4 linked regions of the Homo sapiens genome follow. The protein of the gene in region 3 purifies or fractionates together with the protein of the main gene of each other region. This does not show direct contact. Each region holds a gene or a part of one and is shown on either strand. Other genes may lie near its edges.

What was found.
Region 1: the proteins of TMOD4 (region 3) and LRRFIP1 purify together in Homo sapiens (affinity purification with mass spectrometry; 2 studies listed by BioGRID and IntAct, with this or other methods). This does not show direct contact.
Region 2: the proteins of TMOD4 (region 3) and ACAD11 purify together in Homo sapiens (affinity purification with mass spectrometry; 2 studies listed by BioGRID and IntAct, with this or other methods). This does not show direct contact.
Region 4: the proteins of TMOD4 (region 3) and MYO5A purify together in Homo sapiens (affinity purification with mass spectrometry; 2 studies listed by BioGRID and IntAct, with this or other methods). This does not show direct contact.

Annotation. Positions count from the first base shown.
Region 1 is NC_000002.12:237,749,557-237,756,606, reverse strand, and holds part of LRRFIP1 (leucine-rich repeat flightless-interacting protein 1), read right to left. Parts: intron 5,408-7,050; coding exon 5,336-5,407; intron 3,299-5,335; coding exon 3,128-3,298; intron 513-3,127; coding exon 420-512; intron 1-419.
Region 2 is NC_000003.12:132,635,794-132,642,843, forward strand, and holds part of ACAD11 (acyl-CoA dehydrogenase family member 11), read right to left. Parts: intron 7,010-7,050; coding exon 6,884-7,009; intron 6,341-6,883; coding exon 6,179-6,340; intron 3,864-6,178; coding exon 3,699-3,863; intron 1-3,698. UniProt on the Homo sapiens protein: Acyl-CoA dehydrogenase, that exhibits maximal activity towards saturated C22-CoA.
Region 3 is NC_000001.11:151,169,487-151,172,981, forward strand, and holds the end of TMOD4 (tropomodulin-4), read right to left. Parts: intron 2,872-3,495; coding exon 2,782-2,871; intron 2,278-2,781; coding exon 2,147-2,277; intron 2,055-2,146; coding exon 1,947-2,054; intron 1,578-1,946; coding exon 1,434-1,577; intron 1,178-1,433; coding exon 1,033-1,177; intron 811-1,032; exon of another isoform or gene 618-810; coding exon 595-617; 3' UTR 501-594; downstream 1-500. UniProt on the Homo sapiens protein: Blocks the elongation and depolymerization of the actin filaments at the pointed end. The Tmod/TM complex contributes to the formation of the short actin protofilament, which in turn defines the geometry of the membrane skeleton.
Region 4 is NC_000015.10:52,371,877-52,378,926, forward strand, and holds part of MYO5A (unconventional myosin-Va), read right to left. Parts: intron 4,683-7,050; coding exon 4,471-4,682; intron 3,585-4,470; coding exon 3,428-3,584; intron 488-3,427; coding exon 248-487; intron 1-247. UniProt on the Homo sapiens protein: Processive actin-based motor that can move in large steps approximating the 36-nm pseudo-repeat of the actin filament. Can hydrolyze ATP in the presence of actin, which is essential for its function as a motor protein. Involved in melanosome transport.

The sequences.
Region 1 (7,050 bases), on a different chromosome or scaffold from region 3:
GAATGAATTGTGTCCCTCTAAATTCATCTGTTGAAGCCCTAATGCCCAATGTGACTGTATTTGGAGATAGGGTTTTTACGAAGTAATTAAGGTTAAATGAGGTCATAAGAGTGGGGTCCTGATCAAATAGGATTAGTGTCCTTATATGAAGAGACATCAGAGACATTGCTTTTTCTCCACCGTTGGAGGAAGGATATAGCAAGAAGGTGGCTGTCTGCAGGCCAGGAAGAGAGGCCTCACCTGAACCCAACCTTGATCTTGGACTCCCAGCCTCCAGAATTGTAAGAAAATTAATTTCTGTTGTTTAAGCCATGCTGTGTATGGTATTTTATTACTGCAGCCTAAGCTAAGATAGTCATGGCCTGACAAAATGCTCCAAAGGGAAAAAAGGAAAAGAAAAGCAGGAGAATGCTACCTACCTCGAGCATTTCCTCTCTTTGCTTCAGGGCCTCCTTGACTTCAGCAAACTGAAATTGCAGTATACTGTGGGCGTGTTTTTCCCTTTCAAATTCCTGTAAAGGAGAAAAACAGCACTAAAGCAGTGGAATCCCATGTTTCTGGCATGCCAGTTCAGGCTCTCACGATTTATAGTTTCTGTGGAACAAATCACCTGCTACTACATCATCACAATCTTCAAGGTCTTTTATTTTATTTTTTATTTATATATTTTTTTGAGATGGAGTCTTGCTCTGTTGTCCAGGCTGGAGTACAGTGGTGCGATCTCAGCTCACTGCAACCTCTGCCTCCTGGGTTCAAGCGATTCTGCTGCCTCAGCCTCCCAAGTAGCTGGGAATACAGGCGCCTGCCTCCATGCCCGGCTAATTTTTCTATTTTTGGTAGAGATCGGGTTTCACCATGTTGGCCAAACTGGTCTCAAACTCTTGACCTCAAGCGATCCACCTGCCCCAGCCTCCCAAAGTGTTGGGATTACAGGCATGAGCCACTGCACCTGGCCTTCAAGCCCTTTCAAACAACACAAACAGATTCCTCTGGACTTTATAGATGATGCCTGATGACTTACTGTCAAATTAACCTGAGGAGTTGATGCAATCAACAAGGATTTTCTGATTTCTTATCTACAGTGAAGCAAGAGCCGACGAAGGGCCCCCCCAGGGAGCCTGGTGTCTTCCACAGCACTGTGCTGAGAGCCTGGGTGAGGCTGCCCTGCAAGGACTTACCATAAAATGGCCCCTGCTGAAATATGACAAGGAAAACTCTTTGGGATAAAAAGGAGATAAACATGGCCTACTAAAGCATCTCTCATGAACAGCTGGTGGCCAGCTCTGTGCTTCAGGGCTGCCCCTTAAGAGACAAAAACAGGAGAGTTTGGGGGAGCAAATGGAGAGCCTGCAAAACCTAGCTGCTCCTCAGGCCTGGCCTCCCCACCTGAGGCTCAGCCCAGGAAGCTGGCAGCTCGGCTCTGCTGTGTTCCTGCCCAGTCACAGCAGCGCAATCCCTGGTGACGGCCTGAGACCCAACTCACTTTGCTGACAGCTTACAGGCCTGCAGGACGCTCCTTCCCTAGACCTGTCAGGCGGGTGATCTGAGATGGGATCTGGCCTGAGCTTCTGCTCACCCTGGCACTTCTGTTCGCCCACTTCCTTTAGCTTGGGGGTGGCTGGTGCCCTCCTGGCTATGACAAGGGCCCTCCTGTGGGGCTTTGCATGGCCCCTGTGTCCATCTCGGGACAGCATTCTAGCACCATCCAGCTTCTCTGGAGTGAGACTCGGGAGTTTTCAGTCCACTGAATGATGCCTAATGACAGCATTCCAGGAGGAATGCATATGCATTACAGGCCCCCACCCGAAGGGGGGCTGGGCTGTGCTCTCCACTCCTCCGTTCCCACATGACATCAGTCTTGTGAAAAGCTCCCCTCTTGCAGAGTTCAGCTATAAGGAACTTTGTGCGTAAAATGTTCTTCAGCTTCCAACTCAATTCTATAGCAGTCGAAGAAGCAGGCCTGAAGGTTGTCAAGGGTACCTTGGTTTTAACCCTTTGGATTTAGAGGATAATAGCCAGTTAAAAACAACAACAACAACGACACTCACACATTACATTTTCTGTTTTTCTCAGAATCTCTGAAAAATTGGACAATTCCTAAAAGTATGAAAAAAGTATTCCTTGCTTTCTATCTAAAGAACATCCAAGCCCAGCCTTCGTGGAATCAGTCCGCTGTCATTACTTATCTTAACACATGACTCATGCTTGAGACTCTCAATAGAAATTATATCTGATCTCAGCTATTAACAAACTAGTTCCAGTGGTTCCTAATGAAAGCTCAGATAAGACTATCTCTCTCTCTGAGCTTGGTGATATATTTAATTCTTAAGTAGAGTAACTGTGTCTTTTCCCAATCAGCAGAAAATAATATAATTTTCTTAAAATCTTTGATACTCATAACTATTTCCCTATGGTGTTGAGAGAGAACAAAATAAAAATCAGAAAATACATATGAATAGGAAAATCTTGAAGCATCTGATCGCACCTTATCTGAGCATGGTGGCTCTTTCATAGGTATGTTTTTTCATGGTTTTGCTTTTAGCTTAGATGTTCTCCTAGAAAAACTGTCTCCAGTTTACATGTTGAAATTATACGTATCAATATTTCAAGTCACTTGGCAAAGAGTATGGTACTTTTATTCTCAGATGTTTGGATTTCCTGGATAAGCGGAGAGCCATTGTTTAAAAATATAAAAATACATAATGTAAATTATACATTATATATACATACATACACACGATATATCCACACATACATACATACATACACACACACACACACACACCCTACCATTCCCTTTTTTTTTTTTTTTTTTTGAGACAGTGTCTTCTCTGTTGCCCAAGCTGGAGTGCAGTGGTGTCAACACAGCTCACTGCAGCCTCAACCTTCCAGGCTCAAGTGATCCTCCCACCTCAGCTTCCCAAGTAGCTGGGACTACAGCCATGTACCACCTGGCTAATTGTTTTAATTCTTTTTAGAAATGATGTCTCGCCATGTTGCCCAGGCTGGTCTCGAACTCTTGGGCTCAAGTAATCCTCCCACCTTGGCCTCCCAAAGTACCAGAATTACAGGCATGGGCCACTGCACGCAGCCTATTGTTAACATTCTGTATCATACTAATGCTTACTTTGTTTTTCTCTTCGTACTGCCGCCTAGATTCAGCCAGCTGTTCTTCAAGCTCCAGCAACATATCTTTTAGGGTATCAACCTGGTACATGAAGTTTGTCTTTTCATTGTCTAGCTGAGCATTGGAAACCATAGCCTTCTTATATTTCTCTTCAACTTCTGCTAGAGAGTCCTGTGGAAAGCAGGTCATATTTTTGAAATTGCAATAAAAAAATCAAAACAAAGAATCATTCAGTATTCTGTTAAAAAAAAACCCTCAGTCCTAAACTTAGACTATATTTCTTAGAGCAAATGGATCAGAAGAAGAAACACATGGCAATTTCAAATGCATGGAAATCCCCCTTTTCAATTTGGTCAAATTCTCATTGCTCAGAAAATTCACTATTAAAAGCAATGGACACACTCATTAGAACAAACGAGATACCAGTATGGAAAGGGATGTGGTCACAGAGGCAGTAGAGTCTCTGGCCCCACTCAGTAGCTGGGGAATCCCCCCAGCACGGCGTCCTAGGGCTGGGTGTCAGGCTGTTCAACAGATTTCTGAAGAATCACTCGAGGCGTGTGACCAGCCCTTGTGAAAGAGCCAGTGTGTGATGGCTGAGATAATTACATAGGGCCACAAGCCAGTGACTGCCAACCAGCCCTACTCTGGCTTATGAACCAGGAAAGGAGCAGTAGTGAGTTCAGATTTTTGACTCATAGGAAAATGGCAGGCAGATCTCACTGGGTAGGTCCTGGAAAGACAAAGGTCATTCCCTTTGAAGGACAGTCCAGAGAAAGAGGCCTGTAAAATACGCATGGCGATGCCCTCACGTGCCTCACACCCTTGCAGGTCCCCAAACATGAGGAGGGGAAGGCGATTCCAAAACAGAGAGGCAGAACCTTCAGGGCGCATACATGCAGAGCTAAAGGCAGCGGCAAGAGCTGCCAGTTCAGGTGCAGCAGAGGCTACCAGGGGGCTGGAGGGACCAGTGCTGGTCTAGCTCTGTACCTCCACACCAGGACAGCTGCTTCACGTGGGACCAGCGGGTCTCCGGTTGGTTCAGTGGCTCCCCAGCAGCATTTTTTCTTTTTTGAAACAGTGTCTCGCTCTGTCACCCAGGCTGGAGTGCAGTGGCACGATCTCGGCTCACTGCAGCCTCCACCTGCCAGGTTCAAGTGATTCTCCTGACTCAGCCTCCCAAGTAGCTGGGATTACAGGTGCGCACCACCACACCTGGCTAATTTTTATATTTTTAGTAGAGACGGGGTCTCACCATGTTGGCCAGGCTGGTCTCAAACTCCTGACCTCCGGTGATCCACCCACCTCGGCCTCCCAAAGTGTGGAATTACAGGCGTGAGCCACCACGCCTGGCCAAGTGGCTCCTTTTCGCATGAATTGAAAGCCAGAGTCTTATTTTTCCCCCTTTCAGGAAAGGTGGCAGATATGAAGATAGTGAATTAGTCATGATCGATGTCACCTCCTCTGTCTGGTGCCCTTTGATATTAAATTCAAATGATCTTGCAGGTACTTTCTAGGGGGCTGAAAAGGAAGTAACAGATACGCCACCCACTTCCAGATCCATGATCCGCTGCTGCCTAAGGAAGACAGTCACTGATTGCCCACCTTACTGTCAAGGAACAGGGCAACCACATCTCCTGGCTGGTGCAATGAAGTCACTGCACACTCTAAAAGCAGTGTGCACACGCTCCAAGAAAGCCAATGCCATAGTCAGTCTTTACTTCAATTAGTAGCATTTTACAGGGTGCAAATAATTGGGATGTTTCAAAAGTGTGGCATGTGAGGACGGCCTTATTAGTAGACATCAGATATTTTGAGAAGCAAATCAACTGAAGCATTTTTGTATACAACTACTACAAAAAGTGAAGAAAACCAAGAACCTTCTTCAAGTGTCTGGCACACGCCTATGGGAAATGAGAAACTGGTTTTAAGCCTGGGGGAAGGATGGTAAGTCTAAGGCATGCATCAGGGAGTATGTTAGTAACCTTTTCTACTGGGCAGTTACATTTTCAATCTTGGTTCAAACAATGCATTTGGGAAAATGGTGAGTGTACACCCATGCCGGCACTCCTGCCATTGTGAGTTCTTCTACACCCTGGAGCCTATTTACAGTAAGCATGCACTTTGAATTTCTTCTTTAGGATGTTGTTTTTTTTTTTAAGTTAAGTTGGGTTAATATCGTGAGACCACACGTCTGTGAATTGGTACCTTCATCTCTTTCAATCCCTGCATGTATTTGCCTTCTACATCCTGAATCTGGTCCTTTAACTCATTGAGTTCCTGGGGGAAATGGCAAAAAAGGCAGATGATGTCAAGGGAAAACAGGTGATTCCCTAAATCTTTTATACTTCAGGGTAGTTTCTATTTGGGTAGTCTGAGCACCCAATTTTCTTTTTTATTTTATTAAGCGTTAAGGGAAAATAAACTTCAATATTTAAAGATTAAAGTTCAGGTGTATCCCATATGATATTTTTACATGATTTTATACAATTTTAGTGTATCTCATATGATTTTACACAGTTTAAAAAACAGACAAAATAGAGCCTCGGAAAACGGTACAGGTTATTTCAACTCCTATTTAGTAATTCATTCAAGCACTAGGAGTTCCTACTCTGTGCAATGTACAGTAAGATGCTAGAGGCAAAAATCAGTAGCACTTTTTCCCTGCATTTATGGAGCTCCAAGTCTCTACTTTGCCAAATTCCTGGTGCCGGGGACAGCATCTGGCACCAGCCAGCCTCTCAGTAAGTACCTGAACAAATGAACGGCACGCGCAACCTAAGGGCAGAGAAACATCAGGACTGCCGCCAACTCTGCTGCTCTGCTGTAGAAACGGAAACAACAGGCCAGGCGCAGCGGCTCACGCCTGGAATCCCAGCACTTTGGGAGGCCGAGTGGGTGGATCACCTGAGGTCAGGAGTTCAAGACCAGCCTGGCCAACATGGCGAAACCCCGTCTCCACTAAAAATACAAAAGTTAGCCGGGCATGGTGGCGGGCGCCTGTAATCCCAGCTACTCAGGAGGCTGAGGCTGGAGAATCACTTGAACCTGGGAGGTGGAGGTTGCAGTGAGCCGAGATCGTGCCATTGAACTCCAGCATGGGTGACAAAAGCAAAACTCTTGTCTCCAAAAAAAAAAAAAAAAAAAAAAAAAGAAAGAAAGAAAAGAAAAGAAAAAGGAAAAAAAAAGGGAAGCAACAAGGAGCTGCAGGTGGCCCAGGGGTGGCACATGGGAAATGGCTCTTCTGGTTTTGTAAACTTATAAAACATAGGTGTTGGAAGCATCTTCAAGGTAACCCTGGCCAAACTCTGGTGGATGCTTAAATCCCTCTCCGTCCTCCCTGGCAAACGGCCATCCAGCTGCTCAGACATCCCCAGTGGAAGTTGCTTCCCTTTTAAACCTAGTTTAAAGCACTAGAAAATTCAGAATCTGAGTCAGTTCTGGCTCCTTTCAGCTGCTTCTGTCTTGGTTCTGCTCCCTGGAGGACACAGGTCTAGTCACCTCACCTGCCCTTCCAGTCTTCAGGTTTTCAGATGCACTGTCCCTAGTTACTTTAACAAATAGCACCGTGTTTCTCTTTCACACACAGAATACTACCAAATGCCTGGCACTGTCCTGGGTGCTGAGGATAGAGCAGAGAATAATACCTACACTACAGTGGGATAAAAAAAATCATTAAAATACAAAGATGAGGGCTACTAAAGGCACATTACAAAGAGAAAGGAAAGGGCAAGTTCTAGGCCGAAGGGGAACATACTTAGTGGGGAGGGGTTGTGTGAAAGTAGGTAAAGCCGTCTGGTGTCCAAACTTGTGGACTGAATGTCTATGCAGACCAAGCATACAGAGACGACCAAGTGCATCAACACAACGTGCCAAGTGCTCTCACTAAGGTATTCCCCGGGTGCTGAGGGGCGCAGGGGGCC
Region 2 (7,050 bases), on a different chromosome or scaffold from region 3:
AAAAAATTGATCACTCCTTTCTCTATGACTTTATAAGAGCTTTTATTGTGGTTATATTATACTATAAATTTATAATATTATAAGTATTATAAATTACTATACTAGCTAGATTTGTGAAACTACTGAAGAGGATGGATGCATTTTTCTCTTACATCATTCTATTTGTTATCTATGCTTTTAACATCCAAAGTAAAGATGAGGCACTTACTTATGCTATAAATGATTACTTTTCTTTTTTAATACAATTGGGAAACTTCTCTGGAGTTACTTTTCAGAATATCTGAACCATTTTTGGGGTAAAAACACAAAGCTATAAAACAACAGCCAGTGAGAAAAGCTGATGGCTCATCAAATTGCATAAATTAGTGCAAATTAATTAGCAATAGCTAATTAGAGTCCTGTTGATGCCTGTTTGTGTTGAGAGTTATTAAAAGCTCAACATAACTTTTAGTGGTTGATCTGGACATTTACTAGTTCGTCTTACTGCTGCTAGGGAACTTATTAGTAAAATTATTTTTGATAGTTTTTCTGAAACCTCAGCTCAACAGAAAGCTTTTAGTTTTTTAAATTATCTTCTTTATAAAGAGATTCATTTTATGTATACTTTTTACACCATTGAATTTTATTAATATGTATGTGTATTGGCATTCGAAACAAACAAAAAATACATACAATCCAACAGAACAAACAGTAGATGAAGAAGGCAGGGAAGAAAATAATAGAATTTGTAATGAAAAGATGAAGCTAGGAGTAAGGTTATTACACATAATTGAATGTGATAGGACATGCATAGTTGTTAGTGTGGGTAGTAAAATTTGCTTTGAATTTTATAGCGGGTAAAATAAAGTGTGAAGCATGGTCAGTCACAATCTTTATAGTGTATGCAGGTCAAAAACAAACCAGCTGCTCAAGAGGGACAAATTTTCTTGGCAATGAGGCTAAAGAAAAATATCACCCATCAATCTGCATACAGGTGATATTGTGTAGCGGACGAAAATGTCTTCAACAATATAAAGAGAACTTTGAGGGGCATGGTGTAATTCCTAGAAAGCAGGCTATGCTGGAAAATGACTGAAAGGACAAAGATGAGTTAGGTAGAAGACAAGACCACATGCTGAGAGTGGGAACCGAGATGGGACAAGAAATGTGAGAGTTTGAGAAGAAGGGAAAAGATTTAGAAAAGCCATTTTTTAAATGTCACAGGTTTTACTAAGAGATGAAGTTACAGCCTAGATAAAATCATGTGGCATAAAAATGTCCCAGATCCAATTAACCTTACTTCACGACTTTATTCTGCAGCAAAAATATGAGGATTCAAGTTTAGGGCTAGAAACTGGTTAAAGTCAAGGGGTGATGGACATCCCCTGTAGGGTTATTAGAAAAAATAAAAAGTAAAATAATAATAATAATGATGATATAAAGTCAGGGTGGGAAGATTCTAGAATAATAAGTAACCTAAGGTCAGGACACTTTATAATTCTTACATTACTTGCATACATCTATAGTCAAAAAATTATTAATGAAATTGATACTAAAGGTAGTTTTTGAGATGACTGATTATGACCATGTGGCTTATGTAGGATAAGAAGTCAAGTGAAGTCATGAAGGGCTTATGGATTCTAAATTAACAGCAATCAAATTTGCAGTGTCTCAGGGAAGATGCAGAGAAATAAAAGAACAGAAGGTAAAGAGGGTGAGGTCAAAAATAAGGGGTTTCAATTTCTAGATCACTGAAGTTGACAAGTTCCAATGGATGTTTCTAATTAAATATATTTTTCAAGTTGAAATGACAATATGCAGATTTTACATTAAACTCCAAGATCTTAAACATTTCTCTACTGGTAAAATTTATATTTGGAAAATCAACATTTTCCAGGAAAACTGGATTTCTTTTCAACATTGCAGTGAGCCTATTGTGCTACTGAAATACTTGCCCAAACATGCTTTAAATACTTTGTAAATAAGTAACAGAAAATAATTTCGTTTTGCCATATCCTGTAGTTTCCTTTACTGGCTTACTCCACACATTCCTGGAAGGTTTGTCATTTAAAATTGTTTATTCTTCTTTCTTAATTGTTGTGTTTTCTGATGACAAAAATTAAACATGCTGTTGTTTTAAAAATAAAAACCAAAAAACATCAAACCCTAAACATTACAGAAATGTACAATTATGTCTCCTATAATTCTATCCCCTACAACCACTGTTTAGGTTTTCGTACATATTATGAAGCATTTACTTATACCCTAATATTTTTCTGAAGAAGCTTGACAAGTAGTCTAAGAAAAGTCAGAGAGAAAAATGAAGGGGAAAAAATGGAAAAATGAGGGTACCTGAAATAAACTGAGCATCATTGATGTGCCAGGTACCAGCTAGTTGCTCCACATTGACTGTTTCATTTTAGCTGCCCAGCAACTCAGAATTTTTTTTTTCAATTTTAAAAGGTACACAATGTCAATTTCCTGGCTTTGATAATGTACCATAGTTGTATAATATCCATTTTGCAGAATTTGGATGATGGATACACAGGACTTCTCTGTACTATAACACTGTTACAACTTTTTTGGGGACTCTAATTATTTCAAAACAAAAAGTTAAAATAAAAATAGAGGCACAGAGAGAGATTGAATAACATGCTTTAAGTTCACACTGCTAGGGAATGAAAGTTAAGCATAAATTTATGAGATGGAAATAGTTGCTAGTGAATAATTAACTAAAATTAATCCCTTCAACATAGATTCATCAGAATCATATAAGCACCTGCAATATAAAGATGAATAAGATACAGTCATTGTTTTAAAGGAACTCCAAGTCTAGTGGGTTCTAATTTGTTATCTACTATAGAGACTCAATATTATGTAGACTCGACTAAAATATTAATTAAATGACACAGATCAAATACAGGCCAGATCCTGCTATGTTTTCAGGCATATGCTTTTATAATTATCTAGATTATAAATTAGCATATTTAATTTTTCTAATCTCAGGGTAGATAATTAACAAGGTTAGAATTCAGAATTCATCAGTGCCACTAGCTCTTCCTGCCCTAAAACATCTTAGCATTCTAAGAAACTAATGAACCCAGAAAATCCTCCTCTCAGAAGCAGGATTCATTCCTACTATACTGTAATCCTAGGCCTCATTGTAGGTGCTCAGTGGAGGATTACAGCTTTCATTTGTTTATACTCTTTATAAAGAATACAGTATGCACATTTACATTGAGCAAGGTTATATTAATCTCATGTAATTCTTTTGAAGCCTCAAGAAGCTTTTGGAATTCTCTATTCTCAGAGTTTATAATAAACAAATAATAAATTCTTCATGAGATAGGGCTAAAAACCCCAAAGAAGTATAAATGAACCAGAAAAAACAGCAAGAACATGGATAAGCTAAATATTGTAACTAGTAGATGAAAACTTATTTGAAGAAAACAGCATCATGCATGTAAAATTCCCAAATCCTTTTAAGCAGTAAACCAGATACCACTTGGGATTAGAACCAGTCTCAAAGGTAGGCAGCTAACTTATGCTGGAAAATCTGCAGGACTCCTTTCTAAAAATTTTGAGTGGTGACGACAGTCCTGAGCTGTAGGGGAACAGGGAGTGGGTTGGGCTCCCTCAGTGCTCTGGGGGGAGCATTTACTTAGTACTGTGTCACAAAACAGACCTACTCAATTAATTGTAAACATAGCTAACTGTACCTCTTTAGGGTGGAAAACTATGTTATCTAGTCTGAAATCTCCATGAATCAAATTCTCTTCATTGTCATTATCGGGCAAGTTCTTCATTAGCCACTCCGATAGCTGTTGCATGGCAGGGATGTCCTGATGAGCTGCAGCTTGATATTGCTTTGTCCAGGTTGATACCTAAAGACATATAAATAAGAAAAATGGTAAAGCTGAAACTGGAATGTAGGATCTAGCAATTCTAAAATTAAAACAAAATTCAAATGCTGTTTTACTCCTAAATACTTAAGACCCATGCTGGTGATACTCCTGTCATCCTAAAACACTCAAATCAGCCTAAACCTTAAACATTTAAGTCTCTTTTCCATATAGTTCCATTTTACTTACCTAGTTTTTTATCAAGAGAAAAATACTGGCCTAGGGATCAAGAGATATGGGTTCTAGTCTTTATTCAGCAACTACTTTGTAGAAGAAAAAAAAAGAATGCATACAAACACACACACGCACACACACACTCTCTCTCACACACACACACACACACACAAATATATAGGCATAGATAATCTCTGGAAAGGGTCACGAGAAATAAGTAACCCCTGAAAAAGGGAATATGGGGACTAGAAGAAAAAAGAAGACATTTACTTTTTTTTTTTTTGAGACAGAGTCTCGCTCTGTTGCCCAGGCTGGAGTGCTACCTCCACCTCCCAGGTTCAAGTGATTCTCCTGCCTCAGCCTCCTAAGTAGCTGGGATTACAGATGCATACCACCACACCCAGCTAATTTTTGTATTTTTAGTAGAGACGGAGTTTCACCATATTGGTCAAGCTGGTCTCGAACTCCTGACTTCGTGATCCGCCTGCCTTGGCCTTCCAAAGTCCTGGGATTACAAGCTTCAGCCACCGCGCCCAGCCTACTTTTCATTTTAATACTCTTTCTTATTACCCACAGAATTTTCTAAATATTTTACAGGTATGAATAGTGTAAAGATCTTCTATTGTTCTTAGAATTGAATGCAAACAAATCAACTTACTCGTAAAGTCCTCCAACAGGTGGGACCATATTGTTTATTTGCTTTTTTATCTCCATTTCCCGAGGTATCTTTGCTCAACTTAGTGCAATAGAGCAAAGACCTTTACTTGGTCTTATCTAGTCATATCAACCTGGGTTTAAATTATATCTAAGCCACTTACTTGTGTATTACTTGATTGATGCAAGCCTCCCTTTCTTCATCTGCAAAATGGGAGTAATAATACCTATATCTTAGAGTTGTTGTAAAGATCAAAAAAGAGAGGCCGACAACTCACTCTGCCATGTAGGACCTAGCATATAGTGAGTACACTCTAAACTTTAGTTCCCTTTTCTCTTCCTTAACCCCCACAAAATGATATGCTTACAAAGGAAAGCAGCCCCATATATATCTAGTATTGCTTTCCTTTAATTTAAAATGATCTCCATCACTCCAAATTTTATCTTTCCTTAAATACTCATTATAAGATATCTCTCCCAGGAAGCTTTCTCTATATAAGCAAGGGCATCCCAACTTCCACCCTTTGAATCATGGTGAGTATCAAACAATTTACCACTAGATTTTACACTCTTTTATACCATTTTCAGGTTTCGTGAATGACATGCATGTACAGGTCTCTCAAAAATGACCATAAGTTCCTGTGGGGAAGAACCTATTGTATATTTTTCTTGATATTTAACACAGTACTCAGCAGGTATTAAACACACAGTCAAGCTTAATAAATGTCTGCTAGTCCAATTGAGAAAGAAAAAACTGTAAGCCGGGCATGGTGGCTCACGCCTGTAATTCCAGCACTTTGGGAGGCTGAGGCGGGCGGATCACGAGGTCAGGAGATTGAGACCATCCTGGCTAACACGGTGAAACCCCATGTCTACTAAAAATACAAAAAAATTAGCAGGGCGTGATGGCGGGAGCCTGTAGTCCCAGCTGCTCGGGAGGCTGAGGTAGGAGAATGGCGTGAACCTGGGAGGTGGAGCTTGCAGTGAGCAGAGATTGCACCACTGCACTCCAGCCTGGGCAACAGAGGGAGACTCTGTCTCAAAATGATGATGATGATGAAGAAGAAGAAGAAGAAGAAGAAGAAGAAGAAGAAGAAGAAGAGGAGGAAGAAGAGGAGGAAGAAGAGGAGGAAGAAGAGGAAGAAGAGGAGGAAGAAGAGGAGGAAGAAGAGGAAGAGGAAGAGGAAGAGGAAGAGGAAGAAGAAGAAGAAGAAGAAGAAGAAGAAGAAAAAACTGTATAGTTAAAAGTATTGGAAAATTAAGAGTCTAAAACAGAAGATTTTGCTGAACAAAACCTAATATAAAAACATAAGATAATTTTATACTAAAAACTAGTCATTCTGAAGGACAATGTTAAAAGTCATGGCCAAGCTTCAGAAAACTATACAATAATAGCTTTTTTTGTTGACTAATAAGGTATATTATTTACAAGAACTTGAAAAAAATAGCTATTAATGTGGATGCATTACCTGTCTTTTGCAGTACCCAGCACCTATACCATATCCTTCCAGCTGCAGTGACTGTATATTCAAGGAATGTAACTGAGCCAATGTTTCTACCGTGGCCACATATATGGCTGAACGTTCTGCTGGGCTAAGTCCAGGAATTGTTAAATCACGGAAGATTCGACCCTATGGAAGTGATTACAACAGATTATTTAAATGTGTATAATCAATACTTTGTCGAATATACTAGAAAAACATTCATTTGTGAAACATATTTAATATTAGAGTATACATGCCAAAGGGAAAATAAAAGGATATGCCAAGATGAATATAAACATCAAAACTACTCTCAACTATTTTACAGAAAAAATTTAAAACACATTTTGAATTTATTGTTCTTAATGGCTTGACCTATGTGGAGTCTGTTTTCCCTGCTACCTTATGGACAATTTGGTTATTGCCATTACAGATAGCTCTTTACTGACACCTAGAGGAAAATTTAAGAATAAGTCAATACCCCCTAATTACTAAATTTGTTTCTTGTCTATTCCATCCCTCCCTTTGTAAGTGCTCAAATTTGAACAAAATTGTAAACCTTTGCAATGCAATCTAATTACCTAAAATGTTAAATAACAAACTATATCATTTATTAAGTATCATAATAAAACATCTTAATTAACTTCATAATTAAAAGTAAAAGCAACAAAATAAGATTAAGTGTTAATTTACCTGCACATGTTCCATTACGTAAAATTCTGTTCCAATGACAGAAGTATCACTGCAGTACAGTATAGGCTTGGGAACGGGGAATCCAATTGAAAACAAGGCTTTCTGGACTTTAAATTCTCTATCAATCTAAATAGGATGATGAATCATTAAAAATCAGAGAAACTGAT
Region 3 (3,495 bases):
GCCCACCTCGGCCTCCCAAAGTGCTGGGATTACAGGCATGAGCCACCGCACCCAGCCACGGCTATCCATACTTCTAACCCCTCCCCCACCTCCTACCAAAGCCATGCCAAGCGTCAGCTGCATCAGCCTGGTGCCCTATTAATAAGACTGTCAAAAAGAGGTCTTTGCCCTTCATGTTGTCTGCCTGCTTCTCCACTACCACTCAAAGTCCTTTCCCCCTTCAAATCACATAAGGACTGCAGGTAGGCACTAGGGGGACCTGGCCACATCTGGAAACAGGGCTGTGGCTAAGTTCCCTGTGAAAGTAGAAGAGTCAAAAGGCATTGGCAGGGTTATGGGGAACACCAAGGGAGGGAACACCCCCACCTCCTCCTAGTAACCTGAACCTCCCTGCCTGCTGATCCCCAGAGTATAAATAATCCCCTGGTGAACTGGCAGTAACCCTTGGGGGTTAGCGCCAAGATTCTCACCCCAAAGCCCAAGGAAGGAGGCAGGCAAAATGGATAGAAGGGCTTTTATTTACAGGAAAGGAGGACAGATGAGGATTTAAGTGTCCAGTGCTCCCAGCGCTAGTTGGTAAAGGGAAATGCAGTGTTATCTCTTCTTTTGCTGGCGACCTGTAAAGGAGCAATATTAAACATAAGTGTTTGTTCCAGCTCCTGCTTTCTGCAAAGGCACTCTTCTCCTTTCCAGTCCCTTAGCCAAACTCATAAATTGGTAGTGTCTTAGGCCACCTTACAGGCCCATCCCACATTAACAAAACAAAACAAGAAACCACACCACAAATAAAATTACGATACCTCTAAACAAGTATGATTATCTCTGGCATCCTTTCTACCTCTCTACTGGTCCATATTTGGGGCAGGGGGAGTTTTCTGTTTACTTTCTGATCACTCTTGGGATTTGAAATTCTCATATGAATAGCTCTTTGGTAGCACCCTGGGCTGTTAGTCATTAGGTCTGCTTTCAGGAGGATCCACCAATTTCTGCACTTCCCTGACCACTCCACACATCATGTCTGCAGTTACTCACGTAGTTCATTGTTTCGGGTCATGGCCTGGGCTGCCCGAGCTCGTGGCCCCTGCTGTGTAAAGTGGTAGCCAAAGCGGACAATAGAGGGACACTGCTCTAGCACGGTGGCCATCTCCATCTCCACTGCATCACCAGGCCACTGGCGCTGGGGGAGGGAGAGGCAAAAGCTGACAGTCACCCTCTCTGGGCTGTTTACCATCCCACATCACAGACCCCTTTGGGAGGTCAAAGAAGCTTGTTTCTCCACAGTGGGTGAAGAGAGATGCTGACTTGGCTTCCCTCACAGAGACAATGAAGAGGAGAATTCAAGCAAGATTAAGTAAGATAGCTGCCCCACTGGCTGGCTCAGGGAGGAGACTCAATGAGACTGAATGCTAACATCAGGGGAAGGGAATGCTGACCTGATTGTCTACACGGAGCTCAGTGAGTGTGGCATTTTCCCGAACTGCCTTCAGCACAGCCATGAGTCCTGTGCTGCTAATGAAGTTGGATTCGATGTTTAGGCTCTGGAGGCTACGATTCTCACGCAACATGTCAGCCACTGCCTGGGTAGTAGGGACTTGGGTTAGGATTAGGGAACAGTTTCACAGATGACTGAGGAAAGAAAGAACAGGAGCAAGAGGGAAACACAGCTCTTTGAGAAGAGTCTTTCAGGTGCTGTAAATGGAGCTAGAGGGATACAGAAAGCAGGGCGGATAGCAGGGGAAAGCAGGGAGATGAATGTGCAGTGGGACTAGGGGTGTTAGAGAGAGTAGAGAGTTATGAGCCATAGCACTGAAGGTAGGAGTCTCCATGAGGGCTGCCCTAAGAAGGCATGATGAGAATAGCACTCCCTAGCAAAACCCTTTATGACAGCCATGCAACAGGTGCATGTAAGATGTGGGGAGAGGGCTGGGGATGTCAACTAGCCTTACATTGGCAATGGGGTCACCACTCCTCGTGGCTACCAGACTGAAGCTCCGCACATAGGTATTTGCCTTCATTGCCTCACACAGCTCACTTAGCATGGGTATTGGGATGTCCTATCGGAGGGGAATAGGAGATGGTGGGCTAAGGGACTCTCGGATGTCAGTGGTTATCCGGTGTTATGGTTTGGAGGATGCAAGTCAAATACCTGTATATTATTCAAGTTCACCTCCTCCAGCTCCTTGTCATTGCTTCGGACCCTCTTTAGTATCTCCTCAATGTTTGTGGGATTTGGGGGTTCATCCGGCACTGGCTTATACTTGTCAGGCTGTACCACACCTGGTGAATGAGGGCAGGAAGGGAACCCCAACATGTTCCCCATAATCTCCTCCCCATTGGTTTTCTTTTCTTTTCTTTTTTTTTTTTTTTGAGATGGAGTCTCGCTCTATCCACCTAGGCTGGAATGCAGTGGCACAATCTCAACTCACAGCAGCCTTGACCTCCCGGGTTCAAGAAATTCTTGTGCCTCTGCTTCCCAAGTATAATATCTGGGATTACAGGCATGCAACCAGCTAATTTTTGTAGTTTTAGTAGAGACAAGGTTTCACTATGTTGGCCAGGCTGGTCTTGAACTCCTGACCTCAGGTGATCCACCTGCCTCGGCCTCCCTAAATGCTGGGATTACAGGCATGAGCCACCTCACCTGGCACTCCACAGGTTTTCTTATCACTCATGCAGCATGTCCTCTCCCAGAATCATCAATTTCACCCTTTTCTACCTTCTCCCAGACACTAGGACTGCCTGCCCAGAGCCCTGGGGACCATGCTCCCCAAACACACTCACTGCTAATGCCTTCAGTGTTGCAGATTTCTCCACTGCAGAGGGCATCATAGTATTGCTTGTTACTCATCAGTGTGTACATGTCCAGAATTGCTGGAGAGGGTAAGAAGAGGAGTCACAGGGAATGAGAAGGAACCTGTTCCAAGCCTCCCTCCTACCTATTTCTGAATCTGTTGCATTTGTAAAGCCTGACCACTTACACTTTGCCAAAGAAGTTTCCCACCCTCTTTCAGCCCCAGGGGTCCTTTCCATAAACTTCTTAAGGCAGTAGTTTCTAAAACATTGAGAAAGGGCTAAGGGAAGGTCCCTTATGAGCCACTAGAGGATAAAGGAGTCTGTAGAGACTCTCCTCTTTCAGCCAGAATGGTTCCACTTTTTTTCCCCCCGAGACGGAGTCTCACTCTGTCCCCCAGGCTGGAGTGCAGTGGTGCGATCTTGGCTCACTGCCACCTCCACCTCCCGGGTTCAAGCAATTCTTCTGCCTCAGCCTCCCAAGTAACTGGGATTACAGGTGCATGCTGCCATGCCTGGCTAATTTTTTTTGTTGTTGTTTTTGTTTTTGTTTTTTGTTTTTTGAGACGGAGTCTCGCTCTGTTGCCCAGGCTGGAGTGCAGTGGCACTATCTTGGCTCACTGCAAGCTCGGCCTCCTGGGTTCACACCATTCTCCTGCCTCAGCCTCCCGAGTAGCTGGGACTACAGGCGCCCACCACCACACC
Region 4 (7,050 bases), on a different chromosome or scaffold from region 3:
AGTAATAATAATAATAATAATAATAATAATAATAATAATAATAATAACTTCCTGCCTTAGTTTTTGCAATTGTGATCCACCTTATGAGTTCATAAGTACTTCCATGCCCATTATGGAAATAAATACGGTCATAATTTTACTTTTTACTAAGACCGAAGGGTAAAGTCAAAGAAAAACAATATTGAAAATAATCCTGGTGGATTTCTTCAGGCATACTCCACTCTCAGGGCCCCTTTGTGAAACACACCTGCTCATCAACTTTGCGCTGCAGCTGCATGATCTTGTTCTCCATGCCGATGTGCAGCTTCTTATAGCGCTCCACTGAGCGAGCCTCGATTTTGAGCTTCTTTAGCTCACGCTTGGCCATCATCCGCCTGAAGCAGCACTGAAGGTAGATGATGGCATGCATGCTCCTCTTGTAGTGTGTGCGGGCCAGCCAGCCCCGGACTCGCTTCTGAATGATGACTGCTTTGTGCTCACGGAGTATCTGCAGAAAAGGATAAGGGCAAGCAATGTCAAGACCCTGGACTACACTCATGATTATCAATCTATGTCGGGCTGAAAATCCACACATTACCTAGAGGAAAAGACATAAAAGTTGAATTGACAATGTACTATGTAGATTATACTTATCACAGATATATGGAGGCTACAAAATTATTTTTAAAAGTGATTTGAAAAGTAGACTTTAGAAGGTGATTTCAGAAACATACATAAAAATGTGTCATATGCACATATTATGTGTATAATTCTAAGCAGAATATAGAGTTGGAAGCTGTCTAAATAAAAAGCACCAGATTACCAAAAGAAAAACAACTATAAAAAGAAAGAAAAAATACATTAGGTTTCTTATTAGTATATGATTTCTGTTGGCAACAGATGATCCTCTATAAAATTAACAGAACCAGGCATCCTGTAAACTATGTGCTACTAAAATAAGAGATATCCCCACCACCCTGACTGCTGATACCACCTCACTATGCATTATTAGGCCCGTGCATGAGGACACGGGGTATGGGCAGCAAACTGTCTGTAGAGGCCAACACTTGGGGTACTAAAAAGTTTGTACTGATTTATTGATTTTTTTTTTTTTTAGAAACTAAAAGATGACACTCTTGTTTACCACATTTGAGGAATACCATTCTAGTGAGGATTTTCCATTGCTATTTCAAATGTAGCAAGGATCCACTTTTGGGATTCAAAGGTAGGAGGGATGGGGCTTTAAAATGAAAGGTAAAAGTAAAAAGATGTGAAACAAACTAATCTTACTTTTGATTTTATGTTACATTTCCTAAAAAAAAATGATATTTCCCTAAACTTATAAACAAACAAAAGTTTGCCTTATTAGATGAATTTGTTGTCGCTAAAGAGCACCAAAAAGACACCGTGTAAACATTTTCTAGGAAAGATGGAGAAGAAATTCTTGAATTTTAAGAAGAGGTAGCCAGGCACAGTGACTGGATAAATAAAACTATTAATGCCAATTTTCCTGTTCCATTTGCTTCTCCCATGTAACTTTGGACATGGGTCCATTTTTGTAATTTTAGTCAAATGGAAACAGCATTTAATCAGAGCTTCCATTTTCAATCTCACTTTCATCATGAGTGAGAGAAATTAATCAACACCTGTACTCTCTTTAAGACCCCCCCACTCCAAATCTCATGAAGGGGAACCTTGGACCTGAAATACAGCTAGAAGGAGCACTAATGTGATGGCTGTTGGCTTACATGTGAGCAAGCCTCTACGCTACCACCTTCCACCCTGTCCAGTCACAGTGGGAGCCTGAGCTGGCCGGAGGCTGCCACTGCTAAACCAGTGACCTCAAAACCCAGCTCAGATGTTCCTAAGGAAAGTAGTGAGGAACACAGGAAGGTAACTAGTTTGGTGTATCTGAAAAGCAACTTCAAACCTCTTTCCTCCCTAAAATCTCACGCTTATATAGAAAGAGCATGAGACTACATAAAGGAGGGGTGAGCAGAAAGATCTGGAGTAGCTATCTTCAAAACACAGCTATTAAATACACTCATTCAAGCCTCACCAGTTTCGAATTTTTTGTTGTCTAAAATCACTTCAAATAAAAATAAATAAATAAATAAATAAATAAATAAATAGGGCCTAGGTCACACCCATATACTGTCTGTGCTTAGAGACCCAAATCACCCCATTAATGCTCCTTCTAATGGTGATGTCCATAGAGCTCTAATATCCAGGCTTGTATTTCTCACTGATTTGAAATATAGCCTGTAGGATAGACTCCAAACCTTGCCAAAATGAAAGAGATAAAAATCGTTCATCAATGGTCACAGGTGATAATTAAGACTACTCTGGTGACCCCATTAATTATTGCTAGATGTAAGATTATTTGTCAAAAACTTTTGGAGCATTGTATCTGTCAATACAATTTTAACCACATTAATGTTATAATTTGCCTCCTCTTCACCATGGTAAATTCTTCCAAGGTTGTCTCATTCTTGGAATAACCTTTAACCTGTTTGTCATATATTCTATCTATTCAAAGTTCTCTGTAGTCATCTGAATAGGGGGCCCCAAGGAAATTAGGTGCTAATCCCTGGAACCTGCAAATGCTATTTATTCAGAAAAAGGGCCTTTGCAGATGTGATTAGGTTAAGGGTCTTCAGATGGGAGGATTATCCTGGATCACATGGGTGGAACCAAATGCTATCATAATTATTCTTATAAGAGGCAGATAGGAGAAGTCAAGTCAGATACACAGAAGAGAAAATGCTGTGAAAACAGAGGCTGAGACTGGACTGATGTGGCTACAAGCACAGGAATGCTGGCAGCCACCAGAAGCTGCAAGAGGCAAGGAATGGATTCTCCCCTGGAGCTTCTGGAAGGAGAGCAGCCTGCTGACAACTTGATTTTGTCCCATTGATAATGATTTTGGACTTCTGGTCTCCAGAACTCTGAGAGAATTAATTTTGGCTGTTTTAAGGTAACAAGTTTGTGATAATTTATTATAGCAGCCACAGTAAACTAACATACTTTTTTTTTCAAATTATATAAACAAAGAGAAAGAAGGAGGTAAAAGTTTTTTTCCCATTGTTTTGTTAATAACTGTATGTGATTATTTAGTATTTTAAAATGCATTTCAGGCTGGGCATGTGCACAATGGCTCATACCTATAATCTCAGCACTTTGGGAAGCCACAGTGGGAAGACTGCTTGAGGCCAGGAGTTTGAGGCTGCAGTGTACTATGACTGCACCACTGCACCCCAGCCAGGGTGACAGAGCGAGATCCTATTTCTAAAAAAGAATTTTTTAAAATAAATAAATATGCATTTCAATAGCTGGTTGTCCCCATACAGTTCCTACCTTCATTGTAGCCCCTGTGGTACTCTGTATAGATGTGAAATTTGGTTAATGCTAATAGAATGAATAAACAAAGTTGAAAATAATGCCTCACCTTGCGATACCTATTTCTGGCCAAGAAGCCTCGCAAGTAAGACTGAAGAACGATAGTGGCAGCTCGTCTAATCTTGTACCTCCTGCGGACCACATACATGCGCCAGTACTTTTGAATGATGGTTGCTGCCTTGGTTCTGCGCAGAAACTTAGCATAGCTGGCCAAAGAAAATAACATTATGTTGTCAGTAATCAGAAAAAAATGCAGGAATACATATTAGAGAAACTTAAAGAGTGTCACTGTTTTAGGCATAAATAGTACCTCCATTGTATTATTCTAATAATGTGCATGCTAAGTCAACATTTATATTTACTTACATTTGTATAGCAATTTATAGTTTCCCAAAGTATTTTTGCATTTATTATCTCATTTGAGCCCTCCCTAACTCTGGAAAGTAGGATGGCCCACATTGCCAGATTTTACAAGAAAGCAAAATTCACAAAAATTCATTCTTTCTACAACAGGATCCATTTACCCCAGGCCATGCCTCTTTATAGAACAGACAGACATACACAGTAATCTCATACTTAGTTATCACCAGCTTTCTTGGATCTAGCCATTATTCATCTACCATATTTTTCCTGATTTTGTTAGGCTATAAGCTCATGATTAATTCAGTTCTACTTATACTTCTCAATTAAAATTAAACTAATAAGTAATCACACTAAAGTGTAATTCTCTTCCAGACCCTCTCAGTTAATTGCTCCCAAAAATTATACAATGAAGTCATTATTACCTAGCTCATATTCACGACTGTTTTAATTGATACATGATTTCCTCAAGCCCAATATAAAAGTATCAAAAATAAAAATTTTGAGGACATAAGTAAGCAGCAGTTTGTAAATGTTTTGAAGATAAATCTGAATCATTCATAAGGCTGAGTGAAATTTTATTCTATTTAGCTGTCCTATGAGTTAATTTGTTGTCCCTTGGAACTAAGAAAAGGTGAGGTGTTATCTTTTCAGCTATGGTGACCAGTCAAAACTGTCCTTGGTTGGACAGTGAATTAGATGGGCACTCTACTCTGTCCCCAGGAGACCTACCATCGGGCCTGGTAGCCCCGCACGTATCTCTGCATGGTGATGGCTGCCTTCCGCATGCGTAGGTACTTCTTTCTCAGCAGCCACCCTCGGATGGTCTTCTGGATCCGGATGCAGGCAGCTCTCAGTTTGTCAGCTCTCAATTTTTCTAGATAGGCCACTTGACCGGCACGGAAAAAGATCTTTGTCTTACCAAACTGGTATTTGTCCTTGTCCTATTTTTGGAAGAAATTGTATATTCAGAAATAATAATCATATAAGTGAAATTTAAAAGAAAAAATGTCTAAAAGCAGAATCAGTAAAGGAATGACTCTATTAGCTAAAACTTGGGCTACATCACAATTAACTAATGGAGCCAGATTTTTAATCCTATGCAAGTTGAGCAAATAGAAGGGATTTTAAGAAAAACTGCAGTTTAAGAGTTATTTTCCAGAATTATTCTACCTGGAATTATTATCTGAGGCCCAAAACTTGGTTGTGGGTTATAGGCAGTTATTATTTGCTTGTTTGTGTTTTAAACATCTCAAGGAAATGGAGATGCTGACTCTCTCTGACTGACCCAGGTTGTAAGGATTACAGCGGGCTGTATATTCCATGAGAAGCTGAAGGGACAAAAACACCAGTGTGAAGAATAAGGCAGGAAGAAACGTTTATGAAATAAAATTCAAAAACCAAAAACCAAAATCCTTGGGTATTCATATTGAGTTATGTTTCTAAACAGTTAGCTCTTGGCTTTATCAATAATATCTGAAAACAAACTAACAAAACCCCATAAATATGTTTAAAATCCTACAAATTGGCCGGGTGTAGTGGCTCACGTGTGTAATCCTAGCACTTCGGGAGGTCAAGGCTGGCGGATCATGAGGTCAGGAGATCGAGAACATCCTGGCCAACATGGTGAAACCCTGTCTCTATTAAAATACAAAAAATTAGCCGGGCATGGTGGCATGCACCTGTATTCCCAACTACTTGGGAGGCTGAGGCAGGGGAATTGCTTGAACCCAGGAGGTGGAGGTTGCAGTGAGCCAAGATCGCGCCACTGCACTCCAGCCTAGCAACAGAGCAAGAATCCGTCTCAAAAAAAAAAAATCCTTTCAAACTCCTTTTACAAAAACATAATAATTTATATTACATTGTGATTCACCTTATCTAGAAGTATGCAAATCATTAATCATTCTTGCATCAAAGAATGGAATTTATATGTAAGAATCATTACTGTGACCTGGAATTCTTTTTTTTTTTTTTTGAGATGAGTCTCGCTCTGTCTCCCAAGCTGGAGTACAGTGCTGTAATCTCGGCTCACTGCAGCCTCCGCCTTCTGGGTTCAAGCGACACTCCTGCCTCAGCCCCCTGAGTAGCTGGGATTACAGGTAAACACCACTACGTCCAGCTAATTTTTGTATTTTTAGTGGAGACAGGGTTTCACCATATTGGCCAGGGTGGCCTCAAACGCTGGGCCTCAAGCAGTCCGCCCGCCACGGCCTCCAAAAGTGCTGGGATTAAGGGCGTGAGCCACCATGCTTGGCCATGTGATCTGAAAGTCTAAGGGAAAACAGAGAAAATCATTTTTCCCTATGAGTAGATATCTCATATTATCTCATATATGAAACCAAAAAATCTGACACATCCACATATATCTAAAAAATCTACAATTATTTCAATTTAAATCAATAAAGTTTACATTGGAAACCTAGCTAGAAAAGTGGTCCTTACCCGCATCCCGCTTCACACCTCACACCAACCCTGCCTCCATCTTTCAGCCTCCTCTGCCTAACTAAATTCCCACAAAGCCCTGATCCAGGCCTGAAATGGCCTGGGTGAGAGGACCAGGAATAGGCCTGTTCCTACTTTCTGCTCTACATTCCCACCTGAACACAGGTTAGAAGGGGATTGGGCAGGCTGGGCGCAGTGGCTCACACCTGTAATCCCAGCACTTTGGGAGGCCGAGGCGGGCAGATCACGAGGTCAGGAGTTCAAGACCAGCCTGGCCAACATGGTAAAACCCTGTTTCTACTAAAAATACAAAAATTAGCTGGGTGTGGTGGTGTGCACCTATAATCCCAGCTACTGGGGGGGCTGAGGTAGGAGAATGGCTTGAACCCACGAGGCGGAGGTTGCAGTGAGCCGAGATGCCACTGTACTCCAGCCTGGGTGAAAGAGCAAGACTGTCTCAAAAAAAAAAAAAAAAGAAGGGAATTGGGGCAAACTCAAAAAGCCCCAGTTAAAAAAAAAAAAAAAGCATTGCTGAGGAAGTGGCCTTAGCTCTTTCAAGGAAAAAATATTATTAACAAAAAAAAGGCATCACATTTAGTTCACAGCTAGTAATTATGATCAATTAGCTCAAAGTGAGGTACTCCATCTAGGATAGTGTTAACCAAGTGAAAATATTATTTTAAAAACTTTTCATGAATCTTTAATTCTCTAAGACCAAGATCAGTAGTTCTCAAAATATAGTCCTCAGACAGCATCGGCATCACCCGGGAAATACAAATTCTTGGGCCCAACCTCAGACCTACTGAATCAGAAATTCTGATGGCGGGGCCCAGCAATCTGTATTTTAACAAGCATTCCAGGTCACAGTAA